Linked DNA regions of Homo sapiens. The protein of the gene in region 1 interacts with the protein of each later gene in a biochemical or structural test. Each region holds a gene or a part of one and is shown in the gene's direction. Other genes may lie near its edges. The genes, in order: NCF2, CDC42 and AKT1.

Region 1 (3,649 bases):
CAAGTAGCTGGGACCACAGGCATGTGCCACCACATCTGACTAATTTTTAAATTTTTCGTAGAGATGGAGTCTCACTATTTTGCCCAGGTTGGTCTTGAACTCCTGGGCTCAAGTGATCCACCTGCCTTGGCCTCCCAAAGTGCTGGGATTACAGGTGTGAGCAACCGCACCTGGGAATTATTGGATTCTTGTGTAGCTTTTCTAGGCCATATATGACTAACAAAAGCAGAAATCAGATGGTATATGTATGGCTCCAGGAATGTTTTGTAGATCCACAGCAGAACTGGAATGACAATACAAGGAATGCACACCATTGTCCCAGACTTCAGCTTCTAAATGTGAGAGCGAAGTGGGGTGCACCGTGAGAGCACAGGGTGGGCCTCGAGGTGCCGACGAGGGCAGACAGCAGAGCTGGGCACCACAGGGAGCTAGGGCTCTGTGAGCCGTGGCTCATCTCACACCTCCTCACTGCCTTGCATCATGGCCATGTCTGGACCCTTCTCTCCTCAGGCCTTTACCAGAAGCATTAACCGAGACAAGCACTTGGCAGTGGCTTACTTCCAACGAGGGATGCTCTACTACCAGACAGAGAAGTAAGTGGTTCAATGTTGCACCAACTGGAGGATTTCAGAGAGAAACCCAAGGGGTCTCAGTGTTGCGGGCTTGGTGTTTGAGCAGTACCTTCCCAACCTCTGTTGGGAAATGTGACTGGCCCTTCTGGGGACAGTTATGCAATAAATCAGCAGGTGAGGCAGAAGCTCTCACTGGGGAGGCAAGGCAGGTCTGCCACCAGATTATAAATCAGCTGTGTCATAGGCACAATGAGCCTAGGTAACCACCATGGGCCTGATACTCAGCTGGTGTGACACCCCACCAGTGTCCCTGATGGGGTCACCCATGTAGGTCTCCTATGAGGTACTGAGCTGTCACAGAATGGGGATGATCATGAAACTGCATCAAAACCTGGCTTCATCCCAGCAAAATGCATTTCCAAAACCTGGTTTAATCCATTTGAGGAAATATACTTCAGCTGCAAAAATGATAATACAAATTAACATTATATGTATAAGAATAAATTACTACAGATAAGTAAGTAGCGTATGCACTTATACAGAAAAAGTTTGCAGTAGATGTTAATTTTTTTTCTTTTTCCGAGACAGAGTTTCACTCTTGTTGCCCAGGCTGGAGTGCAAGGGCTCGATCTCAGCTCACCGCAGCCTCCGCCTCCCAGGCTCAAGCGATTCTCCTGGCTTACCCTCCCGAGTAGCTGGGACTACAGGCATGCGCCACCACACCCAGCTAATTTTGTATTTTTAGTAGAGATGGGGTTTCTCCATGTTGGTCAGGCTGGTCTTGAACTCCCGACCTCAGGTGATCTGCCCACCTCAGCCCCCCAAAGTGCTGGGATTACAGGCATGTGCCACCACGCCCAGCCAGATGTTAAATTTAAAAACAGATTTCAAAACAGTTCATATAGCATAGTCCCATTTCTGTATCACAGAATAAAGTCTGGAAGGCCATAGATCAAAATGTTATCAATAATTCTCTCTGGATGGTGGGATTATAGGAAAATCCATTTTCTTCTATCACCCTGTCTGCATTTTTAGGTTTGTTTATAGTCAACATGGAATAATTAGTACAAAGATTAATAAATTCAAAATGAAAGTTAATCTCAATTCCTCCTCCCTCTCATCCTGCACAAATACCTCATAACAAATAACAAAGGAAAAAAATTCTAAGTGATAATTTCAAATGTTTTGGGGCATGGGAAACTGACCCTTTGTAGAAACTGTTCCACCAGTGTGCATCAGTTCTAGGGAAGAGGAATTTGGCTCAGGCTAATGAAGAATTTTTTTTTTTTTTGAGACGGAGTTTCGCCCTGTCACCCAGGCTGGAGTGCAGTGGCGCGATCTCGGCTCACTGCAACCTCTGCCTTCCACGTTCAAACAATTCTCTTGCCTCAGCCTCCCAAGTAGCTGGGATTACAGGTGCCCGCCACTACGTCCAGCTAATTTGTGTATTTTTCAGTAGAGACAGGGTTTCACCATGTTGGCCACGCTGGTCTCGAACTCCTGACCTTGTGATCCACCCGCCTCGGCCTCCCAAAGTACTGGGATTACAGGCATGAGTCACTGAGCCCAGCCTAATAAAGAACTTTCTGACAGTGAAAATGATCTGTGCATGGTGTGGGTGGGGTGAGGGTGAGGCCGGGCGTGGATGGAGCAGCAGGGAGGTTGTAGACAATGTCCAGACATCAGAGAGAGGGCTGGGCTCTGATCCTGTGCCACCCTGAAAGGCTTTGATCCTATGGTTTGGTCAGAAACAGAGCCTGTAAAACCCATGTATGCAGCTGTTGCTAAGGGCAACCACAAGATGCTCAAAGGACCTTAAAGATGTAGATGCAGTTAGTTACCTGAAGAAGTGAAAGTAGAAGTGAAGTCTTTTCTAAAAGAAAAACCACAGACACAATGGCAATCTGGGGAGAAAGAGAGCCTGGGATTGGGAGAAGATATCCAGGCATTTAGCTCTCTCTTCCCCCCATATTTAGTGTGACATATTTATTGTGACTTTATAAATTCTTTTTTTAATTTTAATTTTTTATTTTAATGTTTGTGGGTATGCAGTAGGTGTATATATTTATGGGACACATGAGATATTTTGGTACAGCAGGTGTTTATCTTGACCGACGTCTTGCCTCTAACTGCCTGTCCCCGCTCTTAACATCCTTCTCTTTCTCACTCCCCCTTACCCCGTCTCCAGACTATAGAATATGCAGGGAGGCCTAACAACAAATCCTTCAGCCGATCTTAAATCTCAAAACGCAAACTCTAAGGTCATTCCTTAGTGACCTCTAATAGTCTATAAAGAAGAGATACAACTGGCAAAAGAGTGAAGGCTCCCAGAAAGAATTTCCTCCAAAAAATGCCCGTGAGTCCCAGGATCTGGAAGGCCACGGTTTTGAGTGATTAGAAAGATCTTGGAAACTTCTAAAAGTAAGACCCAGGATTCAATTAATCTGTGATTGGTAATATTAATAGTTACACCTGAGAGAAAAATCTACCGAGTTTTATCTGTAATTCAACAATGAGGAAATTATACAAATGAGGCACTAATCTCAACCTCAAGCAGGCCCTCTTGCGCAATTCCCTAGGTGTTGGTATTCCCTTTGAAGTTCTGTTCTTGACCCTTTTCCCTTTTACAACTGCAGCAGTGGTTGTTAAATGGCAAAATGTGTTTCCAGAAATACACTTTCAAGCACACACATTCGTTTATGTACAATTCAGGGGCTATAGATATGAAGTCCGTATGTGAACCTTGAGGATCCATTCCTGGGCAAGGCCACCCTCTCCCATATGGCTGGCCTCCATTTCTCACAGAATCTGTACCTGAGATCCATCCAGGGAATGTCTCTTTCCCTAAACCTCATCAGGTTGACCTCTTAAATATTTCTTAAATCCACCTATTTCTCTCCATCCCCACTAGCACTGCCTTGGTTGAGACCCTCATTTTTCACCAGGACTACTGCAGTCACTTCCAAACTGATTTTCCAGCCACTGCTCTTGTCCCCTCCATTCATATTCCAGAGTGATCTTGTAAAATAAAAAAAAATTTAAAAAAAGCAATCTCTGTGAGAACTTCCAGTGGCTTC
Region 2 (3,649 bases), about 160 Mb from region 1:
GAATGCCTGAACTCAAGCTATTTGCTCCTGTTGGCCTCTGAAAGTGCTGGGATATAGGCATGAGCTGCTGTGCCGCTGACAGGCTTTCTTGGAAGTAAAAGACTAGTTGTGCTTTTATTTATAGATGTATTTTAAATGCACTTCTCTATTGTTTTAGAGTTTTTTTTTTTTTTTTTTTGAGAGGATGAGAAACAATGAGCACCTTAGGCTACAGGGCTTCCTTTGAAGGGGAGAGAGGGTTAAATATTGTGTTAACATATCTTCCATGAAAATATCTCTCTGTATTAAAAGGCTTCATTCTGGAATTTTATGGTAATGCCTTATTCAGTGTTCTCTTCCACATAGATTTCCTCATTAGATTGTAAGTTCTGTGAGGGCAGGGCTTTGGCCTGGCATGGTCACCCCATTGCTAATGCCTAGAATACTGCCATACATACAGTAGGTTTTAAGAAATATTTTTTAAGTGAATGAATTTGATGATGTCTGAGGGTTAACGTTTTCCCTAATATTCCATGGGCCTTTTTGCTGTGTTTCCTGAGACAGCTTTTGTGCTTGGTCAGCCATATCTTTATTTGGGCTCATTGAAGTAGTGATTACTAATCTACTCTTGCTTGACTTTTTCCATCTGTTTAGGTCAGTATCTTCTGCAGCTGCACTGTCTGGACAATTTACCATCACTTAGAAAATCTGTGATGACTACTAGTTCTCTTACTCTCCTAAAAATTATTCACTTAATGTTTGTTTCCTTATCTTCCTTTATTTCTTTGTTTGCAAATAACTTTTACCGCTTGTTCACTACTGTATCAGATTCCTGGTCATGTTATGCTTTGTGTCTTACTAGTTTCTACTTTTAGTTTCTCATACCTTCAGTCCAAAATATTTTTACTAAAGCAATTTTCATTACTTGCCATTTCAGCTACCTCTGCTGCTGCTGCTGCTATTTTAAGTCCTGAATGTCAAAACTCTTCTGGGACATTGATCTCAAACTGCTTATTCCGTGAAGTGAAACCAGGCTTTCTGCCACCAATGTGGCGTCCCTTTTTGCAATTTTAGAAAAATATTTTTTAAATCAAAGATTTGGCATTAGCCATTATACTAAAGTCCAGAACAATTTCTAATAGAGCAGAAAACTATATTGTTCAGCCATGGTATTCACTAAGCACTGGTGCTCTATCACCTTAAGACAAAGTCTGATTTAGGCTCTGTTACTGTTGTTCTGTAATGCTTTACACTTTAACCTTGCATCCTTTTCTGTAAAATTAAGCCATTGCCATTTGCCATTTCAATTCTGCTGTGTGTTCTTGATTGGTATATTGCTACTATAATGATTAAAAGCATAGACTCTGGAACCAGACTGCCTGGGTTCAGATCCTGGTTCTGCCACTTATTAGGTATGTGCAGTCTAAGTAACGTCTTTGTGACTCAGGTTTACTTCCTCTAAAATAGGGGTAGCAGTAGTGCTTACCTAACAGGGCTGCAGTGTTAGGAAGATTGAATTAATATATATGAAGTGTTTAGGACTGTTCACTGGCACATAGTGAGTGCTGTATAGATTTTTGCTCTTGGCACAACTGTGAGGACCCTTCCCCGCCATCTTTGAGAAGCTGTGTTTCTCTCAAACATAAACATTTTAATAACCATCCTTCTCCCGGACTAATCTGATGAATCCAAAAACATTTCTTTTTTCTTTTTTGAGATGGAGTTTTGCTCTTGTTGCCCAGGCTGGAGTGCAATGGCGCGATCTCGGCTCACCGCAACCTCCGCCTCCTGGATTCAAGTAATTTTCCTGCCTCGGCCTCTTGAGTAGCTGGGATTGCAGGCATGCGTCAGCGCCCCTGGCTAATTTTGTATTTTTCGTAGAGATGGGGTTTCTCTATGTTGGTCAGGCTGGTCTCCAACTCCTGACCTCAGGTGATCCGCCCGTCTCGGCCTCTCAAAGTACTGGGATTACAGGCATAAGCCACTATGTCTAGCCCAAAAACATTTCTAAATGAAGTGGAGATTGCTTTACCTTTTTTTTTTCTTTTTTTTTTGAGACAGAGTCTCGCTCTGTCACCCAGGCTGGAGTGCAGTGGCATGATCTTGGCTCACTGCAACCTCTGCCTCCCGGGTTCAAGTGATTCTCCTGCTTCGGCCTCCTGAGTAGCTGGGATTACAGGTGTCCGCCACCACACCCGGGTAATTTTCGTATTTTTAGTAGAGGTGGGGGGGTTTCACCATGTTGGTCAGGCTGGTCTGTAACTCCTGACCTCACGTGATCTGCCTGCCTCGGCCTCCCAAAGTGCTGGAATTAACAGGCGTGAGCCGCTGCATTCCGGCCTCCTTTACATTTTTATCCGTTACCTTTACCGTTGTCATAGAAGCAAGGGTGTCAGGCCTCAGGTATGCAGTATAGTCTGTGGACCCATCAGCATAAGTGTCACCTGGGAGCTCATTAGAACTATCAGGATTCATCCCAGTCTTACTGACCCAGAATCTTATTTTAATAAGATCCCCACATGATTTTTATGTGTATTAAGGCTTGAAGCACCCTCTTCAGGACTGCTAGAGTGATGTCTCAAATTTCGGAAACAATGTGAATGCTTTATTTCATTTTATTTTCCTATGGAAGCATAACCTGGTTTATTTTAGGCAGTGTACCACAATTTATTGCAAGGATCATAATCTGAAAATGAATCTGAAGCATATTTAGTTTTTAAAGGAATTGTTGCTTCCTGCCTATTACGTAGAATTGCCTCATGTCTGCCCATTATCAGGAACTAATGTGTTATTTAAAGTTTTTTTTTTTTTTGAGATGGAGTTTTGCCCTTGTTGCCCAGGCTGGAGTGCAATGGCATGATCTCCACTCACTGCAACCTCCACCTCCCGGGTTCAAGTGATTCTCCTGCCTCAACCTCCCGAGTAGCTGGGATTACAGGCATGTGCCAGCATGCCTGGCTGATCTTGTATTTTTAGTAGAGATGGGGTTTCTCCATGTTGGGAGTTTCTCCATGCTGGTCAGGCTGGTCTCAAACTCCCGACCTCAGGTGATCCACCCACCTTGGCCTCCCATAGTGCTGGGATTACAGGCGTGAACCACCGCACCCAGCCGAATTACGTATTTTTTAATTTTATTTTTATTTTTTAGAGATAGAGTCTTGCTATGTCACCAGGCTGCAGTGCGTGGTGTGATTATAGCTCACTGTAACCTTGAACTCCTGGGCTTAAAGGATCCTCCAACCTCAGCCTCCCAAGTAGCTGGGATTGCAGGCACGCACCACCACACTTGGCTAATTGTAAATATATATATATATTTTTGTAGAGAATGGGGCCTTTTTATGTTGCCCAGGTTGTTCTTGAACTCCTGGCCTCAAGTGACCTCCCACCTTGGCCTCCCAGAGCTGTGGGATTACAGTTGTGAGCCTCTGCACCGGGCCTTAATTTTTTTTTTTTTTGAGACGGAGTTTTGCTCTTGTTGCCCAGGCTGGAGTGCAATGGCGCAATCTCGGCTCACCGCAACCTCCGCCTCCCAGGTTCAAGTGATTCTCCTGCCTCCACCTCCCTAGTAGCTGGGATTACAGGCATGTGCCACCACAGCACGGGGCCTTAATTATACATTTGAACTTAAGTGACATTTTATTGAAAACTAATTGTGGTGACGAGGAATGGT
Region 3 (3,649 bases), on another chromosome or scaffold:
CGCCTCCGGCTGTGCCTCAGCGAGGTGGACGGGGTCATGGTGGTGCCGCCTGCCCGCACCATGTTCCTCCCGGGGTGTGTGTGTCGGGCTGAGGCCTGCTCCATGGTGGAGCGGAAGGAGGTGAAGAATTTGCAGTTTGTGTCAAGTTACAACCCCTGCCTTGGCGGCAGGACCTGGGGTCTCTCTGGTCATGATCTGCCTCTGAGGGTCACCTCCCCTAAGTCTCCGTTTTCCCAGGGAGCTGATGGGCATGATGAGCCCTGCCCGCCCTGCCTGCCTGGTGGGCTTTCTGGGAGAGCAGAATGGGTCCTGGGCTGGGCGAGGCCCAGGCAGGTGGAGCGCCAGTCCTCTGCCTGGCGGGAACAGACACCTCTCCTTGTGCAGACTGGCCACTTGTGCCCCCTCAGAAGGGCTTGTGCCGGGAGGAGCAGTGGATGTATTTCACCCACAGACCTGGGGGCTCCAGCCAAGTGGGGTCAGCTGGCCTCCGTTGTGTGGCCCCTCCCCTGCCCCCACCCCAGCCTGGTTGTTTACAGGGTTCGAGGGCTGCTGGTAAAGGGGTGTGTACTCCCGGGCCCGGGCAGAGGCCTGGCAGGCCGGGCCCTTCGCGGTGAGCTGTGCGGTCTCCTGGCAGGCGGGGAGGGTGGGTTGCGGGCCCCTCATGGGCTGCCGTCAGCGGAGCCGTCTGCTCAATGTGCTGGAGAAGGTAAATGGGCCCCCGGCAGCTGTCGGGGCGATGGATGTGTCGGCAGTGGGGACCACGGTGGCCGCTGTCAGCTGGCGCCCGCTCCCAGGGCCTGCTGGGCTCACTTTGCTGTGGAGAAGCAGCTCGGTGCCGCCTGGCACCCTGCCAGCCGCTGCCACCACCGTCTCTGCGAAGTGTTTATCCAGCAGTTTCCTGAGAACTGGGGACTTTGAGAGAATGTTCAGGGAGCTGAGGACGTGGTGGCCTAGGGGGGCTGACACACCTGGTGGCTCAGGAGGTGGTCAGTCCCGGGACGTGGAGGGCCACCAGCTGGCCCTCAGGGGCCCACCCAGTCCTGCCCATGGCGCGTGGGTCCTGGCCCCCATGTCTAAGTGGGTGCCGCTTTGGGGGGCCTGACCCACAGTGTGGCCTGGGACACGTGTGTGAGGCGTGGAGAGGGTGGGCTGCCTGTGACTGTCCATGTGGTCCCCGTGGTGGTGGTGGGGTGGGTTGGGGGAGGCCAGGCAGGAGCAGCTTCCTCTCAGAACCCCGGTATTTGGTCCAGGAGGACTTCTGGGAAGGAACCCTCTTTCCCTGGGGGTGCTCCAGCCCCTTCCTGGGGATGAGCGGGGTTGGGGATGGAAGGTCACTCCTGCCGGAGGGCCACCCGGGACATCGGGATGCCAGAGGGACCAGGGCTGGGGTTGTGTGGGGCCCAGGAGGTGCAGGAGGAGTCGAGGGAGCCTGGTCTCCGCTGTCCCCCCGGGCAGGGACAGGAGTCTGGCCAACTGCCTACCCCCCACCGAGGGCAGCCACCTCCCATGCCTGGAGCCCTGGGCCATGGATGTGCTGGCTGGTGGGGAGGGTTACGGGTTTCATCAGGCACAGGAGCCCCTGCCCTTGTGGCTTCACAGGACCTGGTCTTGGATAGGTGCAGTGTCACAGGGTTAAGGGTCAGGGTGGCTCCCACCTGGCCCAGGGCTGGCCTTGAGAGAACCCTGAAGGGTGGGACCGGAGCTGCTGCCTCCCACTGCCCAGGGGGCCAGCAGGAGGGTGAGACTGGAACTGCTGCTTCCCCGCTGCCGAGGGAACCGGCCATGGGGCAGGAGGGTGGGACCGGAGCTGCTGCTTCCCCCTTGCCCAGGGGACCAGCCATGGGGCAGGAAGGTGGGACCAGTCCCCAGTGCCGTCCTCCACTCGGCCCCCCACTCAGGTCTTCTGGCAGTGGTGTGGGGTCCCCCATCCGGACTTGCTGACATTTCTGAAGGGGCACCTAGCCGTCTTCCCTGCCAGACCCTGAGGCCCAGGCCGGGGTTGCACTGGGACCCTGCCTGCTCCAGGTCCCGGGTCTGAAACATGTGCAGCGGGTGGGGACTTGGGGGTTCTTGAGCCCAGCATGGGGGTGTGAGAGTTAGGGACTGAAGAGGCCCCCTGGGCCTGAATGCTGGGCGGTCTCCATTGCCCTTGGGAGTGGCTGCTGGCAGGAGATGACTCTGGCTGTGTGTGGGGTGGGGCGTGCCCTGGCCTCCCCATTTGTTGCCTGCCTGTACCCGTCTGGAGTGAGGGCCTGGCGTGGCAACCTGGGGGTCTGTGCCCACTCTGTGTTTGGTGCCCTCAGCTGTGCAGGCAGGTGGGTGGGGTGGTGTTGGGGGGGTGACTGGGGTGGGGTGGGGGGATGCCAGCTGGCTGATGGTGGGGAGATGGAAGGCCCCTCTGTGGCGGGTGCTTCCCATGGTCGGTGTGGAGGACGAGGTCCCTACTGCCTGGTTCCAGTTCCCCCAGCAATGCAGGGCACTTTTCCTGGGGTGTCAGGGATTGAGAGGCCACTCTTCAAGTGGACTGTACTCCTGCCTCGAGTGGGGGGCATCTGAGGACCACAACAGGGTGGGGAACTCAAGTTAAGTCCTGGATGACAGGTTCCAGTTCCCCTGGGGACCCTCAGGATAGTGAAGGAGAAGACTCCATGTGGGTTGGTCTCTTTGTGTGAGGGGTCTGGGAGGGCAGCCCTGGCTGATGTGTCTGTGCTCCCACCCTCCTGAGGGACCCGGAGTAGGCAGGTGCAGGCCTGCAGGCGTCCTGTGGCCATGAGGACAGTGATGCTGGGCCCCGGGTGGCTGTCTCCTCCACCTGCCCCGTCCTGTGTCACCCCAGTCCTGGATCAGGGAGTAGTGGGGCCCTGCCGCATCTGCTGTCGGGGCTGGCCGCCCACCCAGCATCCTGTCTGGGCTGAACTCGTTAAGATGCGCGCCACGGCCCTGGCTGCAGCTGGCACCCCCCCAAGTGATCCTCTAGCTGACCCTCTAGGCGAGAGATGAAGAAAGAGAACTGTGTGTCTCTGGACCCCTTACCCCGGGTCCCTGGGGATCCTGCTCCTCCCCTGGAGGGGTCTGTGTGCTGGGCTGGGATGCCGAAGACAAAGGCCACGTGAGGCCCCTTCACTCACACCCGTCTCCTGGGGTAGGCCCTGATCGCCGTCTGTTCCCTGGGTCTGTGGGGCCAGGCGAGGGGAAGGCACTGAAAGCCCAGGGCCCATTTGGGCCTCTGCCCATCCCAGGACTCCCCAGGAATGCTCGGGGCTGGGCACCTGTCCTCTCCCACCCCCCACGCCTGGTAAGCGCCGCCCCTGGGCCTGCCCCTCCCGCACCCCCAGATCCAGCTCCCAGAACCCCCCAGATGCAGCTCACAGAACCTGGGGCTGGGCTTGTGGCAGCAGGGTCAGGGGCAAGGCTGGGGTTGGGCACGGGAGCTGCGTGCTCGGGGGCAGCACGGGGCCATGCTGGGCACGGTGGGGGCTGGCAGCAGTTGGTGGATAAGATGGGTTTCAGGGGTGCCGGGCCTGGGCGCTCATCAGTCTTCCCGCTCAGTTAGCGTCCCGGGGAGTGGCAGCTGGCAGGATGGGAGGCACTCCATCAGGGGCCGACAGCTCCAGACTGGCATGCAGGCGGGTGGGCGTGAGCAGCGGGG

The links.
Region 2: the proteins of NCF2 (region 1) and CDC42 form a complex in vitro, tested with the Homo sapiens proteins (2 studies listed by BioGRID and IntAct).
Region 3: the proteins of NCF2 (region 1) and AKT1 interact in far-western blotting, tested with the Homo sapiens proteins (one study listed by BioGRID).

The regions. Positions count from the first base shown.
Region 1 is NC_000001.11:183,583,839-183,587,487, reverse strand, and holds part of NCF2 (neutrophil cytosol factor 2), read left to right. Parts: intron 1-510; coding exon 511-593; intron 594-3,649. UniProt on the Homo sapiens protein: Subunit of the phagocyte NADPH oxidase complex that mediates the transfer of electrons from cytosolic NADPH to O2 to produce the superoxide anion (O2(-)).
Region 2 is NC_000001.11:22,055,709-22,059,357, forward strand, and holds part of CDC42 (cell division control protein 42 homolog isoform 1 precursor), read left to right. Parts: intron 1-3,649. UniProt on the Homo sapiens protein: Plasma membrane-associated small GTPase which cycles between an active GTP-bound and an inactive GDP-bound state. In active state binds to a variety of effector proteins to regulate cellular responses. Involved in epithelial cell polarization processes.
Region 3 is NC_000014.9:104,782,203-104,785,851, reverse strand, and holds part of AKT1 (RAC-alpha serine/threonine-protein kinase), read left to right. Parts: intron 1-3,649. UniProt on the Homo sapiens protein: AKT1 is one of 3 closely related serine/threonine-protein kinases (AKT1, AKT2 and AKT3) called the AKT kinase, and which regulate many processes including metabolism, proliferation, cell survival, growth and angiogenesis.